7 linked regions of the Homo sapiens genome follow. The protein of the gene in region 7 purifies or fractionates together with the protein of the main gene of each other region. This does not show direct contact. Each region holds a gene or a part of one and is shown on either strand. Other genes may lie near its edges.

Region 1 (3,500 bases), on a different chromosome or scaffold from region 7:
AAGCAGGTTCAAGAAACAAACTCCTGTTTGTTTGCCTCTTGATGGTTCAGAAACATTCAGCTGCTTTCACCTCTAGGACAAATGCTTAAGAATTTACTCTCATCAACATTGGAACTTTACGAAAACAGGATTCCTGGTTCATCAGAAGCCTGTATTAATGAAAAATGCATTTTGTTCTTTAGTGCTTAAAAAAAAAAGAAACTCATCTACTTTTTTGCGGAACTTTTTTTGGGATAGCCATTCCTCCTATGGATAGTCATCAGCAAGACACCTAAAAGACATGTTTTCCCTAGTTCTTATCAAAAATTCATCTCACAGAAAAAGTCATTCAAGAAAGCAAAACTTTGCTTTAAGTAGATAAAGTACTGTTTATATGCATTAAACCAAGCAATCCACTCAGGGTTTTAACGGTGTAAAAACTAAATCACAGTACAGCTGAACAGTGAATGGATGGGATGGTTCTGATGAGGTATTATTTTGACATTTTGGTCTCAGAAGGTGTTTCCCCAGTATCCAATGTCTTCAACAACCGGAAAAGACCAGCAGCTTCTCGTATCCTACTGAATTCAATACAGAATGCCTGCACTTCTATAAACAAATCCTGTACATTAATAATTTTGTTACGGATCAAGGATTGGAGAAACACACACACAAGACGCACCAACCGATTCTGAAAAAGGAAAAAAAAAAATGTTAGTCTGCTCATTTTCCTGGCAGCCATTTATAAAATTTACAAAAATTTATATTACCTGCATATATTTATCCTTAATCTGTTCACAAGTAGAGATGCAATTTGATATATAAAGGTGAATAAATTCAGGAGGTAGATCAACAGCTGTAGTTAGTCTGTTTCGTAAAAGAAAATTTGGCCCATTAATTTCATTTGCTAACATTGAGAAACACTGTTAACCATAAAATACAAAATTTGCTTTGGTCATCTGGTGGAATTTTCTGACATATCCAATTCCCTAGTTTTAAATATACTTGGGCAAATTAACCTAAGAGCCATACCTACTTACTCATAAATAACACTGTTTAAAATGTCTCTACTTACATTTACATATCGCAATTATTTTTTTGAGCCCTGTCCCTGAGTATTCTTGGTTAAATCCTAAGTCATGGTCTGTTATTGGAATTTAGAGTCATAATAAAGGCCAAAGCCAGTATTTTCCAAAGGATTACATGGAATGTTTTAATGAGAAAAACGAGTGGGGTGGGAACAGGAATTCCGTACTCAAAGTATGAATTTCCAAAAGAAGATTAATATATGCTGCCTTTTCTAAACTTAACAGACCTCAAAACTTTTTTCAATAAGGCATGAGGATGTAGTGCTCCAAGGACACTGTCATGAGCTGCTGCAGTCTCTTGAGATTTGTGCGTCGCCAAAAAACGTGTTTCACGTTTAAGGATGATGCACTATGATAGGTATCGGGGGAAAACAAACAGGACCTTGTCCTTGAATTCCAAGATACTGAGCAGATAGAATCACATTGATAAAAAGATGTAAGTGATTCTGCATCTTGGACTCAGGGCCAAATGTCTGGTAGAGACAAGAACTGCTATAAGAATATGGTGAAAGGGAAGTGAACACTCAGCGTGGTCAATCCGGAGGACCTGCACAGAACTGGGCCACTGAAAAGAGTGAGTCTTCACTCAGTAGGGGAAAGACTGGAACAAAGAGGGGGGAGATGTGCAGCAGCACGTTTTCAACAAGCAGCTAGCCGGTTTTGCCAGTGACCACGGTTAAAGTTAAAAATTAATTTGGAAACCTCACATTTCCTCCCTCTGCTACCGCTAAAAGAACGCACTCTCCTTCTATGCACGTACTTCCACTCCCTCAGCTTCCAGCTGGGCTTTTTTTCCCCCAATAGTTGATGAAAAAAGGACACATTCTGTAGTTCAATTTCACATAGATTTTTTCAAAAAGCCCCAACTTACAAACAGGTGTTCAAAAACTATGCTCTCCAGTACTGAAGTTTAGTTGCTTGGCACTCAGAATGGATTTCCCCATACAGGAGGACCATATAATTTATCATCCAAAACAGGATACCACGTGAAAGGGAGCTCAGGATGCAAAGCCTCCACCAGGACTCTCAGGCACACCTGAACCTCTGGCCACCCTGCACATAAACAACTTAAGCCCTCCAGCCCATCTAATTCACAATTTACCTAAAAGATATTTGTAAGGAAAATACTCTAAAATGCAAACACTGTACAGCACACATCAAGAAGGGAAGATGTTCTGTTTTCCTGACAGTCAAGGATGGCAGGGTCAGGAGCCTGGGGGTCAGAAAGGCTGGGAGAAGAGCACGAGGAAGCTAGGACAGCATTCCTAGGATTCTCAGCTCTTAAGGTCCATATTTTTCCACACTTACAGCTGTTAGTCACTAAGAAAAAATAGTATCTATATTTGTATAGGGATAAAGAAGACAGGACTATGTATAGGGAAATAAATTTCAGCAATTGGCTGGCACACTGGCTCATGCCTGTAATCCTTGCACTTGGGAGGCTGAGGTGGGCAGATCACTTGAGGTCAGAAGTTCGAGACCCGCCTGACCAACATGGCGAAACCCCGTCTCTACTAAAAATACAAAAATTAGTCGGGTGTGGTAGCACACACCTGTAATGCCAGCTACTAGGGCGGCTAAGGCAGGAGAATTGCTTGAACCCAGCGGGTGGAGGTTGCAGTGAGCTGAGATCACGCCACTGCACTCTAGCCTGGGCAACAGAGTGAGACTCCCTCTCAAAAAAATAAATAAATAAAATAAATTTCAGCAATTAAATTTCATTTATGCTTCTACTAACACTAAATATGTTTGAAATCCTACCCTCAGTTCTTATTAACGCATGCTAAATTTACATGTAGTGAATGCTAAGGCTTACATTATTTCTTTAATAGTTAATCTTACGCCAATAATATCAAGACAAAAATCTGTTACAATTTTTCTTTCCTGGCCATCTAATCTGTATCTATCCCCACACATTTGATCAAATCTAGAAACTTACCGATTTACAACTTCCATTGAATGTAAAGACATGTCCATATTGACCAGGACAGAGAAATACTCAGTGATCTGGCTTGACTGCATTAATTTCAGCAACATTTCTATAGCGACTAAAGGGTTGTTTTCCACAAGGTCAGGAAGTTTGGCTGGGGTGAGGCCAATATGGTAGACAAGTTTGGGGTCTTTTTCCAACTCACCAAGTAGCTAAATACACCAGATTTTTAAAGAGAGAGAGAGGGAGAGAGAAAGGGTGTTGAGTCAATTTTTTTTCCCATGTATATGAAATAAGCATTTTATACAAAAAGCTACAAAACTATCTGCATTGAACCAACTTCATAAATTTCTTCCTTCAAACCCATGATGTCTTGACATTTCTAAATTTACATTTTAATTTTGAACAAACTAAAATGCAAACACATCTAAGACAGTTTATAAATATGCTAGTGATTCCTATTCCTGGGCATCAAACCAGACTCCACACTGTCTGGTCAGATA
Region 2 (4,112 bases), on a different chromosome or scaffold from region 7:
ACAATCACAGTCACAAAATACCAATGATGCCCTTGTGAAGGAAAGTTTTAAATCTTAAGAAGGATGCCACTTCGAAGAAAAACAATTCAGGCCCACTAATGTCACTATACAGCTAGGTTAACATACCTCACATATGATTTCTATCATCTGAACAAGTATACTTGACTTACCAAAACCTCAAATGGTTTATTCACTAAACCATATTCCCTCCACTGGACAAGAGGAGCTGGAGAAATGGGAAAGCACACACTTCGCAGCCCAAAGAATAAGCCATTTGTAACAAGCAATGTTACAGAATTGAGCATCCTGCCCAGTAGTGTAGAAATAAAGGAACAGAAATTCAAATCAATAATATCAGCATGGCCAGCACGGTGGCTCAGGCTTGTAATCCCAGCACTTTGGGAGGCCAGGGCAGGAGGATCACCTGGGGTCAGGAGTTTGAGACCAGCCTGGCCAACATGGTGAAATCCCATCTCTACTAAAAATATAAAAGTTAGGCTGGGCGCGGTGACTCACACCTATAATCTCAGCTCTTTGGGAGGCCAAGGCAGGCAGATCACGAGGTGGGGAGTTTGAGAGCATTCCGACCAACATGGTGAAACCCCCATCTCTACTAAAAATACAAAAATTAGCTGGGCGTGGTGGTGCGCACCTATAATCCCAGCTACTCAGGAGGCTGAGGCGGGAGAATCACTTGAACCCAGGAAGCAGAGATTGCAGTGACCCGAGATCATGCCACTGCACTCCAGCCTAGGCAACAGAGCAAGACTGCCTCAAAAAACAAACAAACAAACAAAAAACTGAAAGAAGAAAAAACAATATCAGCATGCTTTAAGGAAGCTAGGCAAAGCAGAATATTGCCACTGCTGATGAGTATTTTGTTTTCACATCTAAGAGGAGGAGTTTTTATGCATAGAAAAGACTGAGATTTACTCTAGTTTTAAAATATTAATACTTAATTTATTAAAGTTACAAATTCAAAAAGCCTAGATTTTACTCAAATTTTTACACCGAACTTAGACAACTTATTCTACTTGGAGGTCTAATTTTAAAGGCCTGTGATGAATGTCTAAACTCATTTCAAAGTTCACCTTCAACATAACATCTTCAAACATAAAATGTTAACTACTTAAAAAATTTTACCAAGACTACACTTTCAGGGATCATTTCTACAGTTTGTTACTGGAGAAGTTTCTCTGAAAGTGTAGAGTACCAAACACTTTTTTTAAATTAAAAAAAAAAAAAATTTATCAAGTGAGAACTATTGCAACCCCCCCACCAAACCCCAACAATATATTCAATTTTAAGTATAATTGCTAGACTTAAAAAGACAAAATTTTTGTATTTTAACATGTGTCAAGAAAAAAAAATTTCCTGAGAATAACTTACATACCTAAAAAATTAAACTTATAGTGACTCTTAGGTACTCTCTAATGTCCACAAAATAAAATAACTGCAATAAGGTTTCAATTTAAATTCACAAGTATAAATCAATATTCAGTCAATTATACATTTTAAATTGAAATCATAAGACTAATATAAGTGCCGGGCATGGTGGCTCACACCTGTAATCCCAGCACTTTGGGAGGTCAAGGTGGGAGGATGGCTTGAGCTCAAGAGTTCAAGACTAGCCTGGGCAACATGACGAAACCTCATCTCTACAAAAAATACAAAAGTTAGCCAGGCGTGGTGGCGCATGCCTATAGTCCCAGCTACTTGGGAGGCTGAGGTGGGAGGATCGCTTGAGCCTGGGAAGTCAAGGATGCAGTGAGCAGTGTTCATGCCACTGCACTCCAGCCTGGGTGACAGAGTGAGACCCTGTCTGGAAAAAAAAAAAAAAAGACCAATATATTACTCTAAATTCTAATATTAAAAACACTTACTCACGCCTGTAATCCCAGCAATTTGGGCAGTCAAGGCAGGAGGCTTGCTTGAGTCCAGGAGTTTGAGACCAGCCCGGGATACATGGCAAAACCCTGTCTCTACAGAAAAACAGAAAAACTGGCCAGGTGTGGTGGCATGTACTTGTAGTCCCAGCTACTTGGGAGGTTGGGGTGGGAGGATCACTTGAATCCGGGAGGTCGAGGCTGCGGTGAGCCAAGATCATGCCCCTGTACTCCAGCCTGGGCAACAGAGTGAAAGCCTGCCTCAAAAAAATTAATTAAATTTAAAAAAGAAAAAAAACCACTTTAAATATCAAACATAGGTCACTACCACATCAACTCCTTGTTCTGAAAACTGGTAATTGAAAATAATGAATTAAGCTTTTAGCATTTAACATGGCTTTCTGGGAAGACTAACAGTCAATATGGGAAAGCTATTCTTTTTTGTTGTTGTTTCTGAGACAGGGTCTCACTTTGTAGCCCAGGCTAGAGTGCGGTGCTGTGATCACGGCTCACTGTAGCTTCGACTTCCTGGGCTCCAGTGACCTCCTACCTCAGCCTCCCAAGTAGCTGGGACTACAGGCACGCAGCAGCACACCAACTAAGTTTTTTCAATCTTTTCGTAGAGACAGGCTCTCATGTTGCCCAGGCTGCTCTTGAACTCCTGGGCTCAAGCGATCTGCCTACCTTGGCCTCCCAAAGTGCTGGGATTACAGGCATGAGTCACTGTACCCAGCCCAGGAGAGCTACTCTTTAAAGAAGAATATTCACTAACAAAGGTAGAAACTACAATAGAACTAGGTAAAAATCATTTTGTAACCCTCAATAATACAACTGATTGAGGAAAGAATCAACAACAGTGGATATTTACGAAATGCCAATTACTCCATAAATTACCTCTAACTGAAAATGGAAAAAGATGTTCCTGTCAGCACCTCAAATTGATCAAATTTAGCATCACTAATACTGGATAACCTGACATTATGTACTTTATACAGAAAATAAAGTATATAACATCACCTACAAAGTTTCTCAAAAATATGTTGAACCTATATCTAATCAAGCCTGTAGAAATAAGTTAGAGTTTAAGAAAATACAGGAGATAAAGCTGGGTGCAGTGGCTTACACCTGTAATCCCAGCACTTTGAGAGACCAAGCTGGGAGGATTCCTTCAGCCCAAGAGTTTGAGACCAGCCTGGGCAATATATTGGGACCCTGTGCCTACAAATAAATTTTTAAAATATAGCCATAGCTGGGACTACAGGCACATGCCACCACACCCAGCTAACTTTCTGTATTTTTTGTAGAGACAGGGTTTTACCATGGTGCCCAGGCTGGACTTGAACTCCTAGGTTCAAGCAATCCACCCACCTCGGCCTCCCAAAGTGCTAGGATTTATAGGTATGAACCACCATGCCTGGCGGGAAATTGGCTTTTTTTTTTTTTTTTTGGTGACAGGGTCTCACTCAGTCACCCAGGTTGGAGTGCAGTGGTGTTTATCTTGGCTCACTGCAACCTCTGCCTCCCAGGCTCAAATGATCCTCCCACCTCACCCTCCCTTGTAGGTGGGACTACAGGCATGCGCCACCACTAATTTTTTACATTTTTGGTAGAGACAGGGTTTCACCATGTTACCTACGCTGGTCTCTAACTCCTGAACTCAACTGATCCTCCCACCTCAGACTCCCAAAGTGCTGGGATTACAGGCGTGAGGCGCCATGCCTGGCTGGCAGGAAATTTTTAATATATTAAAACATGAATTGTCTAAACTATGACAATGGCATCATGGTTACATAGGTGAATGTCCCTATTTTTAAGAAACGCATGTTGAAATATTTAGAGATGAAGTGTTATGATGTTTATAACCTATTTTGAAATGATTCAACATTAAAAGTCATAGCTAGAGCCAGGTGTGTTGGCTCACATCGGCACTTTGGGAGGCCGAGGCGGGCAGATCACTTAAGCTCAGGAGTTCAAGACCAGCCGGGCCAACATGGTCAAACCACGTCTCTACTAAAAATACAAAAGTTAGCTGGGCATGGCCAGGCACAGTGGCTCACGTCTGTTAATCCCAGCACTTTGGGAGGTCGAGGTGGGTGGATCATGAGGTCAGAAGATCGAGACCATCCTGGCTAACACAGTGAAACCCCGTCTCTACTAAAAATACAAAAAATTAGCCAGGCATGGTGGCACACACCTGTAGTCCCAGCTACACAGGAGGCTGAGGCA
Region 3 (4,112 bases), on a different chromosome or scaffold from region 7:
TCCAGTGGGTCACACAAAGCCTTCCTTGCCGTGGGCACGAGGGATTCAGAGAAATACAGCACCTGCAATGGCAAGCTACAACTGTACCAGATGCAGGAAAGGCAAAGAAGGAGCAGAAGCAGACAAGAAGCACAGGCAGGGGACTCTGACCCAGCTAGGCCACCCTAACTCTCTTTGCCTGACTTGTCTTTTAACTTAACTCTTTACTGTGAAATAAAAAAAAGGAGAGAAGGGGCCGGGCACGGTGGCTCACACCTGTAATCCCAGCACTTTGGGAGGCCAAGGTGGGCGGATGACTTGAGGCCAGGAGTTCGAGACCAGCCTGGTCAACATGGCAAAACCCTATCTCTACTAAAAATACAAAAATTAGCTGGGTGTGGTGGTGCACACCTGTAATCCCAGCTACACAGGAGGCTGAGGCACAAGAATCGCTTGAACCCAGGAAGCAGAGGCTGTAGCCAAAAGAGATGGTGCCCCTGTACTCCTGCCTGGGCAGCAGAGTGAGATTGTCTTAAACTAAAAATTTTAAAAAAATTAAAAAGTAGAGAGGGGCCGCGCACAGTGGCTCACGCCTGTAATCCCAACACTTTGGGAGGTGGAGGCAAGAGAATCACTTGAGGCCAGGAGTTTGAGACCAGCCTGGGCAACATAGTGAGACCTCACCTCTACTAAAAATGCAAAAATTAGCTACGTGTGGTGGTGCACACCTATAGTCCCCAGCTACTCAGGAGGCCATAGCGAGAGGATCACTTGAGCCCAGAAGGTCAAGGTTACAATGAGCTATGATCGCACCACTGCACTCCAGCCTGGGTGACAGAGTAAGACCCCGTCTCAATAAAAAAAAAAAGCAGAGAGGATGTGATGCACCCCCATGTATCCTTCACTGAGACTTAATAATCAACAGCTTGAATCTTTTAGGTGAATTCTCAATATACCTCCCATCTTCTCTAAGAACTGCAAACTCCTTCCCATGGCATCTGGCCCCCTCTCTCCCTGGACTCTTTCTTTTGCTTATTCTCTTGGAAAACTCCAAGTCCTTCTTCAAGTCTCAATCCAGACTTTGTGCTCTATGAAGTCTTTGGGTCTACAATGGAGCCAATAATGGCTCTGCTCCCTCAGTAACGATCCCAGCACAGCAAAGCCCACTCTGCATTCTAATGACTGGTTGGCATGTGGGCCTTGCCATTGGACTGTGGGGACTTTGCAGACAAGAACTCAGCCTCTGTGGAACTCTACCTCTCCAATGAATCACAACTCTTTCTGATGACAGAATTTCTTTTGATTCCTTGCCAAATGTAAATTTTAAAAACCAAACGTAAGACAAACATCAATATAGGAGAAGAGGGATCTGGTATCCTAGGAATTCAGACAAGGATGCCCAAGCCAAGCAACTGGCCACTTGCTTACATTTCTAGCGGGCCATCCACTTAATTGCTTTGGCGTTTTCATCCAAACACGAAGGCAGTGCCTAAAAGCACTCCTAACCTACTCCCCAGGGTGGTCTCCAGGATCATTTAACTCAGGAACCAAGTAAGAGTAATGGACTTCACACCCCTTGAACGTTGCTGCTATGGAAACAGTATTGTTGCCAGACGCAATATGCTTCCTCCCACCTGGCACCACAACTCTTACCTGCTCCCCTCCTGCTAAGGGTGAGTGCACACCCCCTCCCGCACCCTCCTGCCCTACCCACTCACACAGCTGTCCATCCCCTTTCCCAGAAGGAGGTGCACACATTTTAACTGGACTTATATAGCATCACAAAAGAGACTGATCCTGAGCAACCTCCACAGTTGTAAGAGAGCGATCATCTCCAGTTTCCAAAGGCCACTCAAGGAGGCATCCAAATCACTTAGCTCTTAGCCTGCAAAACTGACAGGAAAGCTGAGAAGACGGAGCCTCAAGTCCATGTGGCCCAGCCAGCACCTCCCCAGAGTGAGACTGGCTCATCCCTGAGGGCAGCACAAACCCCCTAGAGGTGAACCTCCTTCAGTAGCCCTCCCCCGCCCTCTGAGTCAGGTCGTCTGCAGTGCACAGCTGGCGGGATCCTTGGAAGATACTCACGGCATCCCGGCTGGTGGACTTCATGATCTCACTTAGGCCAATGCACACACCCTGCCTCTCATCGCTCTTCTGAGACCTCAGGCCTTCCTCAAGGATGGGGATGATCTCGGGGAGGATTTTCTCCCCTAACTTCCGCACAAGATCTCCCAATGTTCTCGCTGCAATCTGTCAACAGAGACCAATCCAGGAAGTAAAGTCCCTGCAAAGCCCAGGGCACCCAGAGGAGGACTCCAGAATGAGGGCCCTGAAACCTCCCAGGCTTTATCTGAATCACTGACTTAACTTCCCCAAATGCTCTTACCCCTAAAGAGCCCCCAAATACTCTCTGTAGTGCTTGCAAAACACTACCAAAAAATTATCTGTTTCACACACACCTACACAACCTAACATTAAGAGCCAGCAGCACCTTACACATGTACAAAAAATTCATCATCTGCTGCACAGTCAAGGGCCAATTTCCCTGGATGACTGAAGCCTTAACACTGTGCTATGGCTGAGCAGGAGCCGAATCTGGAACAAAGCTTTAAGGAAAAAAAAACATCTACTTTCTGAGACCTCATGCAAACCCTTCTTTAGAGCCAAATACACAATTTGCTTGCCAAGGATGGGGGGTTGGAAGTAGACCAAAGGAGATGGGCAGAAATGATCACCAGCCCATCTGGGCACCTCCTCCAGGCCCACTGATCTGTCTGCCCCTGCCAGCGCGCCAGCCTGATCTCATGCCGCACTGCTCCTCCCTGCCTCCTCACTCCAGCCACACTGGCCTTGCTCAGCCCCTACTGGTGCTATGTTCCTGCCCACCACGGGACCTCTGCATATCCTGTCTTTGTATCTGAAACATTATTTATTCCCTCTGTCTGGAATGGTCTTTCGCCACCTCCTCACCTGGTTAGTGCTTACTTATCTTTCATCTTCCAGCATCATTTCTTCTGAGAAGTGTTCACTAACACAGGCCCATCCCTCCCCAGCAGGTCAAATGCAGCTATTATAAGCATTTGCAGTGCCATGCAGCACTGGCCACAGTCGCATTTTACATCTCTTTGTGTGGTTATTTGATTAATATCCATCTCCTCGACTAGACTACCTCTCATGAGGATAAGGAATGAAGCTGCCTTTCTTCTCCATTGTGTCCCCAGGTGCTAGGCCCCTGCTTAGTGCACAGGAGATGCTAATAAATATTTGCAGAGGCCAGGCGTGGTGGCTCAAGCCTGTAATCCCAGCACTTTGGGAGGCCGAGACGGGCGCATCACGAGGTCAGGAGATCGAGACCGTCCTGGCTAACGTGCTGAAACCCCGTCTCTACTAAAAATATAAAAAAATGGCCAGGTGTGGTGGTGGATGCCTGTAGTCCCAGCTACTCGGGAGGCTGAGGCAGGAGAATGGCATGAACCTAGGAGGCGGAGCTTGCAGTGAGCTGAGATCACGCCACTGCACTTCAGCCTGGGCGACAGAGCAAGACTCCACCTCAAAAAAATAAATAAAATAAAATTAATCAAAAAATATTTGCAGAATGACTAAGTAAAGAACACAATGTCCCTCTGTTAGGCAGGGTGGATGGGTACTTTCCCAGGCTCTGCAGACCCAGCCTTCTAGGCTCTGAAAGGAGGCACTGGGGCTGCTGGTCCAAAACAAGGCCCAGGAAACTCACCGTTCTCTTATCTGCACACGTGCTGGCCAGGAAACCCAGCAGGAGCCCAAAGAGAGTGGGTAGGATCTCACGCAAGGTGCGGGGGGTATTGGAGACAACAATCTTCCAGACATGCAGGGACGCCTGCCGCACCACCAGCTGGGTGTCTGAGCGGCCCATGTACAGCCCTGCCAACACCCGGTTCCGCCGCTCTACCCCCAGGGCAGTGATGATCGCCTGCAGCCAGTAGAAGGGGACAGAGAGTAGTGAAGCCTCTATGGCATGGGCATCAGGGCACACCCTACCATCAGCAGGGGCAGGAAAGCCACTGCAGGCACCTTGTTGGACTGGGCAGTTCCAAAGTTATCATCCTCAGAGGCAGTTTCTGTGGTCATCTTCCCAGTGACTCCTGAGATGTGAA
Region 4 (4,112 bases), on a different chromosome or scaffold from region 7:
TTAAAAACCTTGGGCTGTAAAATATCAATATAAAAAACATTTGTGGCCAGGCGCAGTGGCTCACGCCCGTAATCCCAGCATTTTGTAAGGCCGAGGAGGGTGGGTCACCTGAGGCCAGGAGTTCAAGACCAGCCTGGCCAACATGGTGAAACCCCATCTCTACTAAAAATACAAAAAATTAGCTGGGCATTGTGGTGGGCGCCTGTAATCCCAGCTACCTGGGAGGCTGAGACAGGAGAATCGCTTGAACCTGGGAGATGGAGGTTGCTGTGAGCCGAGATTGCACCATTGCACTCCAGCCTGGGCAACAAGAGTAAAACTCCGTCTCAAAAAAAAAAAAAAAAATTGTATGTCTATGCACTAGCAAAGAACATGCAGAAAATGGAATTAAGAAAACAATTGCATTGGCCGGATGCGGTGGCTCACGCCTGTAATCCCAGCACTTTGGGAGGCCAAGGCGTGTGGATTATGAGGTCAGGAGATCAAGACCATCCTGGTTAACACGGTGAAACCCCGTCTCTACTAAAAATATAAAAAACTAGCCGGGCGTGGTGGCGGGCACCTGTATTCCCAGCTACTCGGGAGGCTGAGGCAGGAGAATGGCGTGAACCCGGGAGGCGGAGCTTGCAGTGATCTGAGATGGAGCCACTGCACTCCAGCTTGGGCGACAGAGTGAGACTCTGTCAAAAAAACAAAACAAAACAAAACAAAAAACAGACAGGATCTCACTCTGTCACCTAGGTTGGAGTGCAGTCTGCTATCATAGCTTACTACAGCCTCAAACTCCTGGGCTTGGGTGATCCTCCCACTTGACACAGAAAGTTAATTTAATTGCCCCAAATCCACAGTAAATGTCAGAAACAGAATCTCAAGTTAGGCACTCAAGCTGCAGAATGTATGCACTTCTCTGTCTGCTCAACCTTGACAATGATAAGTGATCAGAGGCTTAGAGGATAAAAAAGGAAAGAAAAAACAAAAAAAATCAACAAACAGGTCAGCAATCAAATGTTTTGTATCATGATAAAATATGCATATTTCTATTTTTCTCTATATACTGTAAATTTATGTACTTTTTAAACTTGTGATTTGTTATAATGTTAGATTTACAGATTTATATAGATAGTATGAACAGTTTCCATATGTAGTCTTCACCCAGTTTCTCCAAAGGTTAAGACTTTACGTAACCATGGCACAAAGGCAAAAAAGAAATTAACATAGAGACCTTACATTTATTTGTCAACAAAAAGGAATGAAGTTCCAATGCACAAACATTGAAAACATTATACTAAGTGAAAGAAGCTATATGACTCAGAAACATTTTATTTAGTGAAAAGAAAGAAAGAAGCTAGCCAAAAAGGACCTCATATTGTATGATTCTGTTCATATGGAATGTCCAAAATAGGCAAATCCATAGAGACAGAAAGTAGATTAGTAGTTGCCAGGGGCTAGGAGAGCTGGAGGGAAATGGGAATTGACAGCTAATGGGTATGGAGCGTCTTTTTGGAGTAATGAAAATGTTCAACCTTGTGAATATACTAAAAGCCATGAATTGTAAACTTTATTAATTTATTGTGACAGAGTCTGGCTCTGTCACCCAGGCTGGAGTGCAGTAGCGTGATCTTGGCTCACTGCAACCTCTACCTCCTGGGCTTAAGCCGTCCTCCCACCTCAGTCTCCCAAAAAGCTAGGACTACAGATGCACCACCACACTCAGCTAATTTTTGTTTTTTTTTTTGTTTTTTGTTTTTTGTTTTTTGAGACGGAGTTTTGCTCTTGTTGCCCAGGCTGGCGTGCAATGGCGCGATCTCGGCTCACTGCAACCTCTGACTCCTAGGTTCAAGTGATTCTCCTGCCTCAGCCTCCTGAGTAGCTGGGATTACAGGCGCCCACCACCATGCCTGGCTAATTTTTTGTAGTTTTTCAGTAGAGACAGGGTTTCACCATGTTGGTCAGGCTGATCTCGAACTCCTGACCTCATGATCCACCTGCCTTGGCCTCCCAAAGTGCTGGGATTACAGGCGTGAGCCACCGTGCCCCACAATTTTTGTGTTTTTTACAGAGACAGGATTTCACCATGTTGTACAGGCTGGTCTCGATCTCCTGGGCTCAAGAAATCTGCCCACCTTGGGCTCCCAAAGTACTGGGATTACAGGCCTGAGCTACTGCACCTGGCCTGTAAACTTTTAAAATGATGAATTCTGGCCAGGCTCGGTGGCTCACATCAGTAATCCCAGCACTTTGGGAGGCTGAGACAGGTGGCTCACGAGGTCAGGAGTTCAAACCAGCCTGACCAACATGGTGAAGTCTCTACTAAAAATACAAAAAAAATTAGCCGGGTGTGGTGGCAGGTGCCTGTAATCCTAGCTACTCAGGAGGCTGAGGCAGAAGAATCACTTGAACCTGGGAGGCGGAGGCTGCAGTGAGCCAAGATCGTACCACTGCACTCCAGCCTGGGCGACAGAGTGAGACTCCGTCTCAAAAAAATAATAATAATAAAATAAAATGATGACTTCTGTGGTATATAAACTATAAATCAATTATAAAACAAAAAACGCTGGGCTGGCCAAAGATATCTGCAAGCTGGCTGGCTAGTTTTGGAACCCCTGAGCTAGATGCTGATAATAATAAAAATATTGTTATATCTAACACTTATTGAGCACTTAGTATGCACCACATACTGTTCTCTAAGCACTTTTTCCATATTCATTCATTTAATCCTCATAACAGCCTAGGAGGTAGGTTACTACTATTTTTTTTTTTTTTGAGATGGAGTTTCACTCTTGTTGCCCAGGCTGGAGTGCAATGGCACGATCTCGGCTCACTGCAACCTCCGCCTCCCAGGTTCAAGCGATTCTCCTGCCTCAGTCTCCCTAGTAGCTGGGATTATAGGCATGTGCCACCACGCCCAGCTAATTTTGTATTTTTAGTAGAGACTGGGTTTCTCCATGTTGGTCAGGCTGGTCTCGAACTCCCGACCTCAGGTGATCTGCCCGCCTCTGCCTCCCAAAGTGCTGGGATTACAGGCGTGAGCCACTGCAACGGGCCAGTTACTACTATTATTCAAATTTTACAGCTGAGAAAAGAATAGTGCTGAGAAGTTAAGTATTTGCTCAAGGTCTCAGTGTAAGTGTGTGCTAGGATTAGGATTCAATCCCAGTCAGTCCATGCTCTTACCCACTATGTTCTACTGCCTACTGCTGTGTGGTGCCTGGGTGTCCTGGAAGTCTGGAATAGTGAGGCAGATGGGGAAGAACTATAAAGAATCTCCTGAAGAGCAAAGGCTGCAACTACACTAAGGTTTCTCAATAGGGACTATTGATCTTTATAGCTGGGTAATTCTTTGCTGTGGGAAGCTGTCCTGCGCACTGTAGGATGTTTAGCGGCATTCCTGGCTTTTACCCACTAGACGTCATCATCAAACCTCCTCCCCTAGTTGTGACAAGTAAAAATGTCTGCAGACATTGCCAAATGTCACCTCAGAAAAAAATCACCCCCAGTTGAAAACCACTGAACCAGACCTTGAAGGATAAGATAGGCCTCCAGCCAGAAGGGAGAGCTGGGCAAAGGTATAGAAGCAGGGAATAGGGCCGGGCGCAGTGGCTCACACCTGTAATCCCAGCACTTTGAGGCTGAGGTGGGTGGATCATCTGAGGTCAGGAGTTCAAGACCAGCTTGGCCAACATGGTGAAACCCCATCTCTACTAAAAATACAAAAAAATTAGGCAGGCGTGGTGGCATGTGCCTGTACTCCCAGCTACTTGGGAGGCTGAGGCAGGAGAACGGTTTGAACCCAGGAGGTGGAGGTTGCAGTGAGCCAAGATTACACCACTGCCCTCCAGCTTGGGTGACAGAGCTAGACTCCATCTTGAAAAAAAAAAAAAAAAAAGCAGGGAATAAATATGGTACATGGGAGAACATGATGAAGTTGACCACCTCCTAAAAGTTGAAGGAGGATGAGATGGAGAGGTAGACAAGCTAGATAGCTGGAACTAACAATAGTGCTGAATGAAGGCCGGGTGTGCTGGCTCACGCCTGTAATCCCAGCACTTTGGGAGGCCAAGGCAGGCAGATCACGAGGTCAGAAGATCGAGACCATCCTGGCTAACACGGTG
Region 5 (4,112 bases), on a different chromosome or scaffold from region 7:
GCAGTCTTGCAGAATTTCTAAAAATTCTGAAATAATATCTGAGCTTAGACTTACTTGTTTAAAGGCCACTACTGCTCTAAATGGAAATCTGGAGCACCACAAAATGCTCTTATCCATCAGGCTGGTGGCGCTGTGTCTGGTACACGTATATTTTTGTTTTGGTTGAAATGTGTTAGAGGACGGTCTTCGGCAACTAAAGGGATACCACAAAGAAACATACTAACTCAATTCTAACATGCTCTGCCACTGCTGGGTAACGTTACGGCCATTCATCATTCACTAATAAATTTCCTTGTTACCAAAAAGGTTTATGATGCCCTGCTCTGATGTAAACATCATACTAAAAAAAAAGGTCATTTAGTGACCAAAGCACAAAGTGCCAGAGGAGGAGATACTGCAAAAATGAGATGAGATAGTCTGATGGCTTGCACCTATCCCAGAGATTCTGTATTCCAACACAGATTTCCAGATGCCTCCCCAACTCCTGACAAGGACTATAATCTTAGTTTGAAATGTCTCAAGCACCTGCTCCCATAGGACGTAAAAGGCCATGCCAGGGAACTCTTGACATTTAAGATTCTTGGTCATGGTGGGGCCCCATGGGGGTGCCCAGGGCATGAGTCTCACCAACGCTCTTCATGCAGCTCCCAATCTTTGTGCTGACTCGCAGGAACTTGCTAAGGTCCCATCGAGGAATCTTCACCACACAATAATCCACGCTGGGTTCAAAGGCTGCTGTACCCCCTGTCACAGAGTTCCTGGGGTCCAGCAGGTGGGATGCCAGAAGGACAGTGAAGGAAGCATAAAGGGTGAGCTTCCGGATAGCTCTTTCCATTCCCACAAATCCAGGCCAATGTCCTTTTCATATTCCCTGTCCCATCAATATTTTCCTCAGCCCCCGACCCACTTCCCCACTGTGATATCTCCCTCATCCTCGTACCTGAGCTCAGGCAAAGGGATGCCCAATGCTAGCTTGGCTGCCACATAAGCCAGTGGATAACCTGTGGCCTTACTGGCCAGGGCAGAGCTGCGAGAGAGCCTGGCATTCACTTCAATGATGTAATACTGCAAAGAAGGAGAATAAAGTCACTGGCCTAGAAGACCCTGTCTAGGAGAGGTCTCAGAAAGGAGAGAAAAGTAACCTAGTAAAGAAGATTCCAGCTTGTACTCCAGGGACTGTAAGCCCAAAAGACCTCAACCTCAAGGGCCAAAAATTATACAAGAAGAGGGGGTAACAACTAGACTATCAGTTCCAGGGCCTAGAGCTTACCTGCTCAGACTCAGGGTTCAAGGCATACTGCACATTGCACTCCCCAACAATTCCCAGGTGCTGGGTCACCTTGATAGCTGTCTGCCTCAGGAGCTGATACTCCCTGTCATTCAGTGTCTGGCTAGGGGCCACCACTATGGACTCACCAGTGTGGATGCCCAGTGGGTCCAAGTTCTCCATGTTACACACCTGTGAAGGGGGGTGCCATGGAGGTCACTGCCAAGCAGAGTCAGGAGAGGCAGAAGGCTGCACCCCAGGGTCCTGTTACCTCTGGGGCTGCACCTAACCTGGGTCTGAGGGACATACAACTCTCAAAGACCTTGGCCTGGGCCTCTGCTCTTCCAAAAGCTCATCCTGCCTGACACGACGCCCACCCTTCCCCCATTCACTCACCGTGACACAGTTGCCATAGGCGTCTCTCACCACCTCGTACTCAATCTCCTTCCATCCCTTCAGAGACTTGTCTACTAGCACTTGGCTGGTATGGGCAAAAGCTGGGGCCACGAGAGCAGAGAGCTCCTCCCTGTTAGAGGCAAAGCCAGAGCCCAGGCCACCCAGGGCAAAGGCTGCACGCACTAGCACAGGGTACCCCAGCCGTTCAGCGGCTGCCTGGGCCTGCAATGAGTGGAAGAGATGAACAAACAGGTTATTTCCTACTGTCCAAGGTGTGCCTGTCCCACATAAAAAAAGATATAAAGAAAATAACATGGCTGGGCATAGTGGCTCACGCCTGTAACCCCAGCAATTTGGGAGGCCGAGGGTCGGGGGGGTGGATCACCTGAGGTCAGGAGTTCGAGATCAGCCTGACCAACATGGAGAAACCCCGTCTCTACTAAAAATACAAAATTAGCTGGGCATGGTGGCGCATGCCAGTAATCCCAGCTACTCAGGAAGCTGAGGCAGGAGAGTCGCTTGAATCTGGGAGGTGGAGGTTATGATGAGCCGAGATCACGCCACTGTACTCCAGCCTGCGCAACAAGAGCGAAACTCCGTCTCAAAAAAAAAAAAAAAAAAAAGAAAATAACACTACCAAAAAAAACACCACCATTCTTCCTTTACCCAAACACCCCTCCAACCTGTTCAAGAGAATTTGCTGCCTCGCTCGGGGCCACATGCTCTCCGATCTCTGCCATTCTGGCAGCAAAGGCCCGTCGATCCTCGGTCAGCTCAATGGTCTCCACTGGTGTGCCCAGGACCCGGACCCCATACCGAGCCAGCACCCCGGCCTTGGTCAGCTCCACACCACAGTTCAGAGCAGTCTGGCCCCCAAAAGTCAGTAACACACCATCGGGGCGTTCATTACGTATCACCTGAGGATGGAGAGGGGAGTTACAGGCATCAGAACCTTGTGGGTAGAGAGGCAATCAAAGTTTAATAACCCACAGTGACCACTGGGCCCCCCTGCCCAGTCCTCTTTTCATTCCAGCCTTGCCCCAGTCATACCTGGGTTACATAATGAGGTGTTATGGGAAGAAAATAGACCTTGTCGGCCAGCCCCTGGGAGGTCTGCACTGTGGCAATATTGGGGTTGATCAGCAACGTCTGGATGTTTTCCTCCTTCAGGGCCTTAATTGCCTAAAAGGACAAGAATGGCATCTCAGCCTCTGCTGAAGAAGCAAAATTGCAAACAGCCTTAGAGTAGCATTCTCCTCTTCTTTCCCTCCCTGTACTCTTGGCCCCTAATAATTGACTTCTATTTCTTACTACATCTTTCTCTACATTCCCCAAATCTGGTTCATTTCCTCCCTGCAACCTTAGCCCTTCTCCTTAAGACCCTTTCCATTCTTGAGGGTCACACGCCCAGAAGGGTGGGGAGGAACATGCCTCACCTGAGAGCCCGAGTAGTCAAATTCTCCAGCTTGGCCAATGGAGAGGCCCCCTGAGCCCAGGATCAGAACCTTTCGTGGTGGTGGAAGTCCAGAGCCGGGAGTGGGAATCCCAGGGGGACAGAGGCGCTCAGTCAGCCGCTCTCTAACTGTGGAAGCAAAGAAGGTCGTAGAATGTTAGAGCTGAGCTGGACCCAAGAGGTCAACTGGATTAGCTCCCTCGCTTTCAGAAGAGTCCAGAGCAAATTATGCACCTCAGGAGGAGCAGAGGGAGGACCAGAACCCAGGACCCTGGAGTTCCTTTCAACAGAAGCTTAAACGGTATCTTGGGTTGGTTGCCACCCATCCCCAATACCCTTAACCTCCTAGACATCTAGGAGTTGCCCAGGGCATGTCCACCTTATGCCCATCCTGGAGCCAACCCTGTTCTTAGGTCCACAACCCAGTTCTACTCAGGATCTTACCTGTCTGGCCCCCAGGGTTCCCAGCTGTGGCCTCTTTCACAGTTTCCAGAAAGATATCGAAAAGCAGTTCCATATCTGAAGGGCCAGCTTGGTGCTCTGGGTGAAACTGGACACTATTGAAGAGATTGCATCATGAAAACCATCATGGTCCCTGGCATGACACTGGCAGCCTCGAGGTGGGTAGTGGGACAGGGGACTCGGATCCACTGCCGTGCTTTACTTTTCCATCATCAAGGCCCACAGGGCTTCAAATTTTCACAGACCCAGTCAACCAGGCTCACCTGAAGAAAGGCAAGCTGTTGTGCACAATGCCTTCATTGGAACCATCATTGGCGTTGGTGAAGAGAGGAGCCCAGTCTGCTGGCAGTGAGTCTGTCTCCACAGCAAACCCATGGTTCTGGGATGTCAGAAAGCAGCGCCCAGAGCCCACCAACAAGCAGGGCTGGTTATGGCCTCGGTTCCCATATCTGGAGGTAGAAGCATGCCGAGTCACAGGCCCTGCTCACCCTCTCTTCACTACTGAACCTACCCCAGCTCTCACCGATCTCCTGT
Region 6 (4,112 bases), on a different chromosome or scaffold from region 7:
GTTAAGACGAGTATATGCACACAACTCCTTAGAGTGGTCTGCTATAATCCACCTATGTTAATACTCCTAAGATTAAAAAAGAAAGATGAGAGTGGAAAGAGTGGAAAGAAAGAAAGAGAAAGACAGTAACAGAAGGAAAGAAAGTGGGAGGACAGGCAAGGAGAGTAAAGGGAGGGGAGAATAAGTAGAGCGTGAAGGAAAGAAACACCAACAACAAAACAAAAATTCTTCTCTAACTTGTTAAGGCCTCCACCGGCAAAATGGCCCTTCTGTGCATCACAGCTTGAAACAAGGCTTTGCACAGCAGTTGCTTCTGCGCTAAAAATAGCACGAGGATTAGGTATCGTTAGCAGCTGCTTAGGAGAACAGAACTAGAACTGAATAGAACAGCATGGCTGACTATAGGTCAAAAAGCACCTTTGTCGTTAACCTGAATTTTAACACAGCAGCTTACTCAGGACACATTCAGAATATCTGTACTTAGAAACTTCCCAGTAACAACCACATGATGAGCAATAATTTGGTTCCCTGTTCCTGAAAACTATCATTATACAGACATGTCAATTAAAAAAAAAGTCAGATGAAAACATGTAGGCCTCAGCATGCAGTGCTTTCACAGGGTGGGCTGAATTTCTCAAGCAAGGGATACCCTACTGCAAGTTCACTTCCTGGAAGTCCCCTCAAATTACACAGAAGTCTACTGCTACAAACATAAAATAATCTTTCTTGAAAATTTCTCTAGTCATATGCTGACCATATCATGTATTAAAGGTAAACACTGGCCAAAAGAAAGCTTCTCATCTTCAGTTATCTGTTAAGACCAGCGTGACCAACACGGTAAAACCCCGACTCTACTAAAAATACGAAATTTAGCTGGGTGTGGTGATGGACACCTGTTAATTCCAGCTACACAGGAGGCTGAGGCAGGAGAATCACTTGAACCCGGGAGGCGGAGGTTGCAGTGAGCCGAGACCACGCCACTGCACTCCAGCCTGGGCGACAAGAGCAAGGCTCCGTCTCAAAAACAAAAAAAGAATTAATGTTTAGAATTTAAAAATACATGTTATGCAGCGTCAAAATGTTACTACTATCTAGGCAGGACCTACACATTTCCCATAGTACTTAACTGTAACAAGCTGACATCTTTTGGCCACAGAAAAATCTTTTAGCTATATAGTTTAATCCTAGGAGCATTATCCTATCACTAGAACTGACAAAATAATTTCTAGCCAAGATAAGCCAAAAGGAAAGAAAAACTTTTGCCACACTACTAAATACATCTGCATATCGCTGGCCACCTTAGATTCCACCTTGTAAGAACAGATTCTATGCGTCTTGGGAGAAAGTAACAACTCACAATGGCGTGCATATGAGAGCCTCAATGTCCTCAGATTTGTGTTTTGGTTTGTGATTTTCAATCTGGCAAGCAGTGACAAGAACCGGACCTAAGCCTGAAATGTGTTGAAAATTCTGCCTTCTGCCAAGACATACTGAAGCTCTGAAAAAAGGATTCCCTACAAATTATGTATGCAAGAAAAAAAATCACATGACCAGATAATATAATTGCATTCACTGTAATACTTTAAAATATGGTTTAAAACAACATCCCAGCCTAGGCTCGCATGACAGTCACTTGGTCTGAACAGTGTGCTGCTGTAGATAATGCCATCCGAAGCCTTACTTTGAGATTTTTGCAGCTCTTCATGAGGTACTTCACATCATAAATGACAGGAAAAAACAATCGAAGGATCTCAAAGAAGTCAAGTTCTTCTTCAGGCAAGTTAGAGTTGGTTAGGATTTTGATTAAGTAGCCAAAGTCGTAACCGCTATAAAAGGGTTAAAAGAATAGAGAAGAGGGACATATAAATACTATAAAGATTAAAAAAAAAAGTTTTTCTGATTCAAATTTAAGCAAGTCACACTAGAGCCCTCCCAAAAACATTAAAGAGAAGTGCACACAAGAACAGAGAAAACAAACATATTGAGAACTATGAGAAAATGTCGTCATCTTACAGTATTAAGAACTTTATCACTTTATTATTCAGAGATATCAACACAGACCTACACTACCAAACCAGCCTATGGTCAATAAAATACTATTTTGTTGATATCTGAATAGAGAACACCAAGAAGAGTATCAAGCTGCCCACAGATGTCTCAAAATATTTTTTAAAGTAACTATGGAAATGGAGAAATAAAGATGAATGGAAACTTGGCCAGAAGAGTTAGCAAAGGTAGCAAGAGAACTGGCATTCGGTAGACAAAAGTAATGCAAGTCATCCCACTTTTACATAAGGTGGTCATATACTTTATCCAAAGAATAAGACTGTAACAAGGTATTTTCACTTCTCTTAAATGACTGTGTTAAGTAGTCTCTCCCTTTTCTTCCTTCACAATTCTCTTCCTTTCAGTGTGGCTCCCTAAGAGTCATTATTAATGGAAATGCTGCACATGGAAGAAGTGAAGGGTAGTAAAAAAATAACTACTCTCTTGATCATAAAATGCAAACTCCTACACTCTCAAATCCAGAACTCTTCTCCCTTTGTCCGGCCTTTCGCACAGCTTTCTGTCTCCCTACACTCCCAGGCCACTTAGACACGTCCGTCCCTTGTCTACCTTTCCTTCCAAGGACCTCTAACAGGAAGCCTATATGACATTTGCTCACTAACATTAAAAGATTATATTAGCGCTTAGGATTTATAAACTTCTTAAACTATTCTTCATTACTTGAAATTAGAATATGAGGAAAACAACTAATGATATTTAATGGAATAAAATCTTCTATCTTGATAAATATTCAAATATATCAGTCTAACTTAGATTCTAAACTCCAAGAAGACATGAATGAACCCTGTTTGTTTTTGTTCATCTTAATACCCAGTGCCTAGTGCACTGTATTTTGTCAGAGTATTTTTTAAATGAAAGGGTATGTCATATACAGTAAAAGGGAAGGGCAATACTTTCCAGTTCTTTTGCACCTTCATATCTAGGGAAGAAAAATGACTAAAAAAAAGGTATTTGTATCAAGAGTCTTAAGTTATGTTTCCTAAGGTACAAGTTCAAGTGCAGAAGAGACAAAAAAGATGATAGGTAAGAATGAGTGTGTTCAGTACCTACAACTCAACCATTTCTGGTTAGTACACATCAAAGTTGCCCACATGAACAGTCCTTCACTATAAACATCCCACAGATCAGAGACAGAAACTAAACATGCAGGAGACTCAGATTTAAGATACATGTGTGAAGTGGACCAAGTATGAGAGTATTAACATCTATGTAACACAATGCTTTTTCAAAACCTAACAAAAGCCAATATCATTCTGAAGGTTACTTTTAGTCCCTGGAACGTCAGTTTAGTTTACTTAGATGGGAAAACTCTTTTTCATACCTGGAAGTCTATTTCACAAAATCGGAATAGTTTCCTTACCAGAAACACTCTTAAATAATCTAGTTTCATAACAATAAAGAATTTAGAACCACCACTTATTGAGAATTTACTGTTTATAAAGTATTTTGGTGACCATTAAAACAAGTCTTCAAGCTATTTCTTCTAAGGGATGCCTTATCACTTTAAAAAAAAATTAAAATCCATCTCCACACCCATCCCTAGCATTTTCTTTGCTGTTTTGAGATAGTACTTATCACTATCTAACAAATCACAACGTGAACTCCATTTTTAAAAACTGTCTGCCCACCCCCATGAGAATATAAACTCCATGAGGAAAATAATTTTCATCTGTTTTATTCACACCTTAGTTCCTAGAATCTCATCTCAGTGCCTGCCATATGGTAAATACTCAATAACGTTGTGTAAATGTAAGTGAATGGTTTCCCCCGTAGAACATTAAAAACTAAGGTGTAGAAATAGTAAAAGAAAACCCTGGGTAACACCAATTCCAAATGGCGCCGCTGGATTTAAACCAGGGTCTTTCACTTTTTAGAGAACCTGTACTGTTTCCACTATGCAACATGCTTCTCACAGGCAAAAATGGATCCCATATTTTAAATTAACCTTTAAGCAGACCAACATTAGCCTCCTAAGAGTTAGGAGACAACTCTATATGGCAGTCAACTCTTTCCAGAATTAAACCTGAAATTGCTAACATAGTGAC
Region 7 (4,112 bases):
GAAACAGGAAAATATGCACCAAGGTTTTTTTTTTTTTTTTTTGAGACGGAGTCTAGCTCTGTTGCCCAAGCTGGAGTGCAGGGGCACGATCTCAGCTCACTGCAACCTCTGCCTCCCGGGTTCAAGCAATTCTCTTGCCTCAGCCTCCCAAGTAGCTGGGGTTACAGGCACCCGCCACCACACCCAGCTAATTTTTGTATTTTTAGTAGAGACGGGGTTTCACTGTGTTGGCCAGGCTGGTCTAGAACCACTGAACTTGTGATCCACCTGCCTCGGCCTCCCAAAGTGCTGGGATTACAAGCGTGAGCCACTGTGCCCAGCCAACATGCACCAAGTTTTTAAGTTCAAACAGTGAATGTCTGGCACCCCACTGACAGCTTTGGAACAGTCAGCTTTCCTTTCCCAGGATTTCTAACAAGGTCAGCTTAAGGACTTGAGTATCTTGATACCTGTTATTTTTTCAGGCTGGAACATTATTAGCATATATTTCCCACAAATCTAAGTAAAATAAAAGCACAGCTACTCTCATAGATGCCAAAAGGAGTTGCCTTAAAAAATTCACATGAACATGTCCTCATTCTGAAACTTTGGTAATGTATTAACCTTCTTAGGAAACAATTTTGCTTCACTTGAGGCAGGTAGTATGGCCCAGCTTCCTCTTTGGTAAGTTATCATATTAAATAATGTACACACACCCAGAAAGAGAAGAGAATGAATGACCTGTAGTCATTATTTGCATTAACTCAGTTTGGGGAATTCACTCCAGACCATAGCACTCAAGGCTATAAAAGGAGCAATGGTTTTAGAAACAGGATTTTGCTATTGAATTCAAGGGATACCTTTAAGTAGATGATAGCATCTGTTCCATATCCTGATAAAGAGTAGAGATTCAGATCTCCTTGAAAGTACTTTGCATACAGACGAGAAATTGGCAAGCCGTAACCAAAACCAGCCTAGAGAAGAGAGACGTTATCAGGTAAAGAAGTGTATGTGATCACTGAAATACAAACAAGCAGGAAATTACTGTCCTCACTGATACTAATGTCCTAGAACCTAAATAAATATCTTCTACTTCCAATCAGACATCCCTTGTTTCACCATTTTTAGCTTGCTTTATCATTCATTCTTATATCCTTCATGTCTAATTTTACTTAATTGATGAACTTGTCTAAATAATCCCTTGCAATCCTTGCTCTACATTTAGAACTAGGTGGCTGAGATTAATTTAGCCATATAATTGTTCTTACCAAAGGAGCATTCCGGGAATTATCCATCACAGGCGTTGGTGCAGTGGAGTATGTATAACTAAAGAGGCGGTCAATAATTCTCAGGGGAACACCACCTCCTCTGTCTGAAATCTAAAACAAACAAACAAGTCATCAAAGCCACACATTAAAAACAATGTGCATTTGTCTAAATAAAAATGGCTTTCCTTCATTTAAAAATCACCTGGCATATATGACTGTTATCTATTGCAAAAAGCAGACAGCTTTATTACTATTGACCCTATTTAATTCTCTCAAGAGACACCCAAAAGGAAAACAGAGAATGGTTACCTTAATGGTAAGGTCTTCTTTTCCCAAGACAACAATAACCTCTATTGGTGTAAGGGAAGGCTGATTTTCCTGGTGTTCAACTGTTGCCCGCATTGCATTCTAAAACAAAGCAAACCATAAGGAATTCAATGGCAGAGGAATGAGGGACAATAAATGTTTTTTTTTTTATGTTTAAAATAAAAGTAGCACAGAGGGTAATTCAAAGTTCCTATTTTTTTAAGTTAGTAGTAAAACAGCTTTGTAAATAGCCATTTATGAATGGGTCATGTAGGATGTATAATGAAAAATATTCATTTACTATGTAATATAGCTCCTGGGAGTAATGTCTAATGGAAACCAATTCTGCTAGCTGTCAAGTTCTTATTTGTAAGCTTAATTTAAATGTAGAAATTGGTTTTTATAGTCCATTTCCTAGCTCTCCCTTTTCTATCTTTCTATTACGTTTTACATCCAAGCACCAAAGACTACTATATAACAAATGAACAGTGAAATCATTGAACCAATTTATTGGCTTTCATAAAACTTGCTGTGAAAAGGTTGTTACTATTTAAAAGGACAGTCAATAATTCTAAATTGAATTTCAATTTGCATTTGATTATCATCTAACTTTTACCAATGATGGCAGAATAACTCTATGAGTTGTATCATTCAACTTAAAAATAAATCAAATCAATGAAAAAGTATCCTTTGTCCTTTAACACAGAACAAACTAAAAGATGTTTTCCGTCTATTGGCTGAATCTCATACAGATACAGTCTTGGTTTTCTTAACCCATTTTCCTTTCTCACCACCTGTCTACTTTCTGCTTTCTGGTTTTTAAATAATATTAAGTTCTAGTCATTAGCTGTAGTGAAATAAAGTAGATCAGATGTTTGTAGTACAGTCAGTACCTCACAGCAGTAACATTAGAATAAGTTAGGAAACAGGAAGTTCTGGAAAGAGTTATGTCAGAATTAGAGGCAGATTTGTCTTTTTTAGGCTTCCTTCTCTCCAATTCAGGGGACTCTTGGGAAGCATCAAAAAGCTTAAGGTGTTTTTCTATTTTTTGGTTTAAGTTCAATTTGATCTTAATTTAACTTAATCTTAGGACGCATGAAAGGATTTGATTCTTAGCACCTGGCTGCCTCAGACCAGTAACATCTGTATCCTTTGAGAGCTTGTTAGAAATGCACATTCTCAGACCTGAAGAATCAAAATCTCTGGGGTAGAGCCCAAGAATCTGTGTTTTAACATGCCCTGCAGGCGATTCTAATGCATATTACAGTTTGAGAAGCACAACTCTACAGGCCTGCTAGGCAAAGTGTGCATTGTGGACCAGCAGCATCACCCCTTAGCTTATTCAAAATTGAGAATCTCAGGCCCCACTCTAGACTTCCTGAATCAAAATTTTCACTTTAACTAAGTCCCCAGGTGATTCATATGCACTTTAAAGTAGATGATTGAAGGAACTACTGACTGTGCTCTTAGCACATTCTGGACTCTGAATGGAGCCATACCACCTACAGGAATTCTGGACCTGAACTGCTGAGTTAGGAGTAGGACCAGCCTGTGGGGGTGGAGGTAACAAGGCCTCATTCACTGAAACATTCACCCCATGACCTCTCTTAATGAATGAATAAATGACTAGTTCTTTAATGGGCACCTGAAAAAATAATAAGAACTTCCTCTTGGCTGTAAAGCATTGATACATCATGAATTGTATGATGCATTCTCAAATATGTGTTGATGCTACAATGAGCTACATGTACTTTGTCAAACATTGACTGTATAGTTTCTTTCTCTTAGGAGGACTAGAAGCATTCTTGGGAAAAGATATTGAGGCTTCTGTTTTGTGGCGAATAATAAAGGAGATAAAAATATAACTGTTAAACCTTTTTAAAAGGTAAAATTTCAATTATTGTGAAGTATCATACCTTAAATAGTTCAAAGAGCATATGATGGAGGTGAGAAGGAACATACACGATGTGAATTGGTTGGTCTGGAAATTTTCCTAGAAAAATAAAATTCATTAAGAATTTGTAAACAAATACTTCACTAAAATAAACCACCACATTCATGTGATTAACATTTTAGACTTCAAGAGGGTTGGCATATTCTCTACCTTCCCCATCCCCAAATCCTGCCCTAGAAACTTACCACTTAAACAGTAAATATTACTGGCTTATATTCAAAATGTTGTTGTAGTTGCTACATAATGCTCTTTTGTTAATTGTTTTTTTTTTGTAGAGATAGGGTCTTACTATGTTGTCCAGGCTAGTCTTAAACTCCTGGCCTCAAGCGATCCTCCAGCCTTAGCCTCCCAAACTGCTGGGATGATAGGCATGAACCACCTTGCTCCATATGATTAATTTTTGTATTTCTCCACAAATGTGTGAAGTTGGGTAAGTGTGGAAGAACAGTGCTATAAATTAGATTTTGTGGATTATTTCTATTTTCAACATTTTTGTACTGCACAATTTCAGAGTCAAAATTTTATGTATTTTAAGACAGAAGGGAGAAAACTGTGCTTATAGCATAATATTGAAATTAATGCTAACTATAATTTTCATATTTTTA

The links.
Region 1: the proteins of PDK4 (region 7) and CNOT11 purify together in Homo sapiens (affinity purification with mass spectrometry; one large-scale study listed by BioGRID and IntAct). This does not show direct contact.
Region 2: the proteins of PDK4 (region 7) and CNOT10 purify together in Homo sapiens (affinity purification with mass spectrometry; one large-scale study listed by BioGRID and IntAct). This does not show direct contact.
Region 3: the proteins of PDK4 (region 7) and GCN1 purify together in Homo sapiens (affinity purification with mass spectrometry; one large-scale study listed by BioGRID and IntAct). This does not show direct contact.
Region 4: the proteins of PDK4 (region 7) and RPAP1 purify together in Homo sapiens (affinity purification with mass spectrometry; one large-scale study listed by BioGRID and IntAct). This does not show direct contact.
Region 5: the proteins of PDK4 (region 7) and CAD purify together in Homo sapiens (affinity purification with mass spectrometry; one large-scale study listed by BioGRID and IntAct). This does not show direct contact.
Region 6: the proteins of PDK4 (region 7) and CNOT7 purify together in Homo sapiens (affinity purification with mass spectrometry; one large-scale study listed by BioGRID and IntAct). This does not show direct contact.

Annotation. Positions count from the first base shown.
Region 1 is NC_000002.12:101,266,386-101,269,885, reverse strand, and holds part of CNOT11 (CCR4-NOT transcription complex subunit 11), read right to left. Parts: exon of another isoform or gene 3,210-3,500; coding exon 3,007-3,209; intron 847-3,006; coding exon 750-846; intron 671-749; coding exon 473-670; 3' UTR 1-472. UniProt on the Homo sapiens protein: Component of the CCR4-NOT complex which is one of the major cellular mRNA deadenylases and is linked to various cellular processes including bulk mRNA degradation, miRNA-mediated repression, translational repression during translational initiation and general transcription regulation.
Region 2 is NC_000003.12:32,691,273-32,695,384, reverse strand, and holds part of CNOT10 (CCR4-NOT transcription complex subunit 10), read right to left. Parts: intron 1,222-4,112; exon of another isoform or gene 1,145-1,221; intron 1-1,144. UniProt on the Homo sapiens protein: Component of the CCR4-NOT complex which is one of the major cellular mRNA deadenylases and is linked to various cellular processes including bulk mRNA degradation, miRNA-mediated repression, translational repression during translational initiation and general transcription regulation.
Region 3 is NC_000012.12:120,138,795-120,142,906, forward strand, and holds part of GCN1 (stalled ribosome sensor GCN1), read right to left. Parts: coding exon 4,030-4,112; intron 3,929-4,029; coding exon 3,713-3,928; intron 2,230-3,712; coding exon 2,065-2,229; intron 63-2,064; coding exon 1-62. UniProt on the Homo sapiens protein: Ribosome collision sensor that plays a key role in the RNF14-RNF25 translation quality control pathway, a pathway that takes place when a ribosome has stalled during translation, and which promotes ubiquitination and degradation of translation factors on stalled ribosomes.
Region 4 is NC_000015.10:41,537,556-41,541,667, forward strand, and holds part of RPAP1 (RNA polymerase II-associated protein 1), read right to left. Parts: intron 1-4,112. UniProt on the Homo sapiens protein: Forms an interface between the RNA polymerase II enzyme and chaperone/scaffolding protein, suggesting that it is required to connect RNA polymerase II to regulators of protein complex formation.
Region 5 is NC_000002.12:27,223,478-27,227,589, reverse strand, and holds part of CAD (multifunctional protein CAD), read right to left. Parts: intron 4,028-4,112; coding exon 3,842-4,027; intron 3,674-3,841; coding exon 3,561-3,673; intron 3,246-3,560; coding exon 3,100-3,245; intron 2,846-3,099; coding exon 2,714-2,845; intron 2,581-2,713; coding exon 2,347-2,580; intron 1,886-2,346; coding exon 1,664-1,885; intron 1,460-1,663; coding exon 1,271-1,459; intron 1,066-1,270; coding exon 941-1,065; intron 759-940; coding exon 628-758; intron 1-627. UniProt on the Homo sapiens protein: Multifunctional protein that encodes the first 3 enzymatic activities of the de novo pyrimidine pathway: carbamoylphosphate synthetase (CPSase; EC 6.3.5.5), aspartate transcarbamylase (ATCase; EC 2.1.3.2) and dihydroorotase (DHOase; EC 3.5.2.3).
Region 6 is NC_000008.11:17,233,035-17,237,146, forward strand, and holds part of CNOT7 (CCR4-NOT transcription complex subunit 7), read right to left. Parts: intron 1,827-4,112; coding exon 1,682-1,826; intron 1-1,681. UniProt on the Homo sapiens protein: Has 3'-5' poly(A) exoribonuclease activity for synthetic poly(A) RNA substrate. Its function seems to be partially redundant with that of CNOT8.
Region 7 is NC_000007.14:95,586,171-95,590,282, forward strand, and holds part of PDK4 (pyruvate dehydrogenase kinase, isozyme 4), read right to left. Parts: intron 3,547-4,112; coding exon 3,470-3,546; intron 1,656-3,469; coding exon 1,557-1,655; intron 1,359-1,556; coding exon 1,248-1,358; intron 954-1,247; coding exon 840-953; intron 1-839. UniProt on the Homo sapiens protein: Kinase that plays a key role in regulation of glucose and fatty acid metabolism and homeostasis via phosphorylation of the pyruvate dehydrogenase subunits PDHA1 and PDHA2.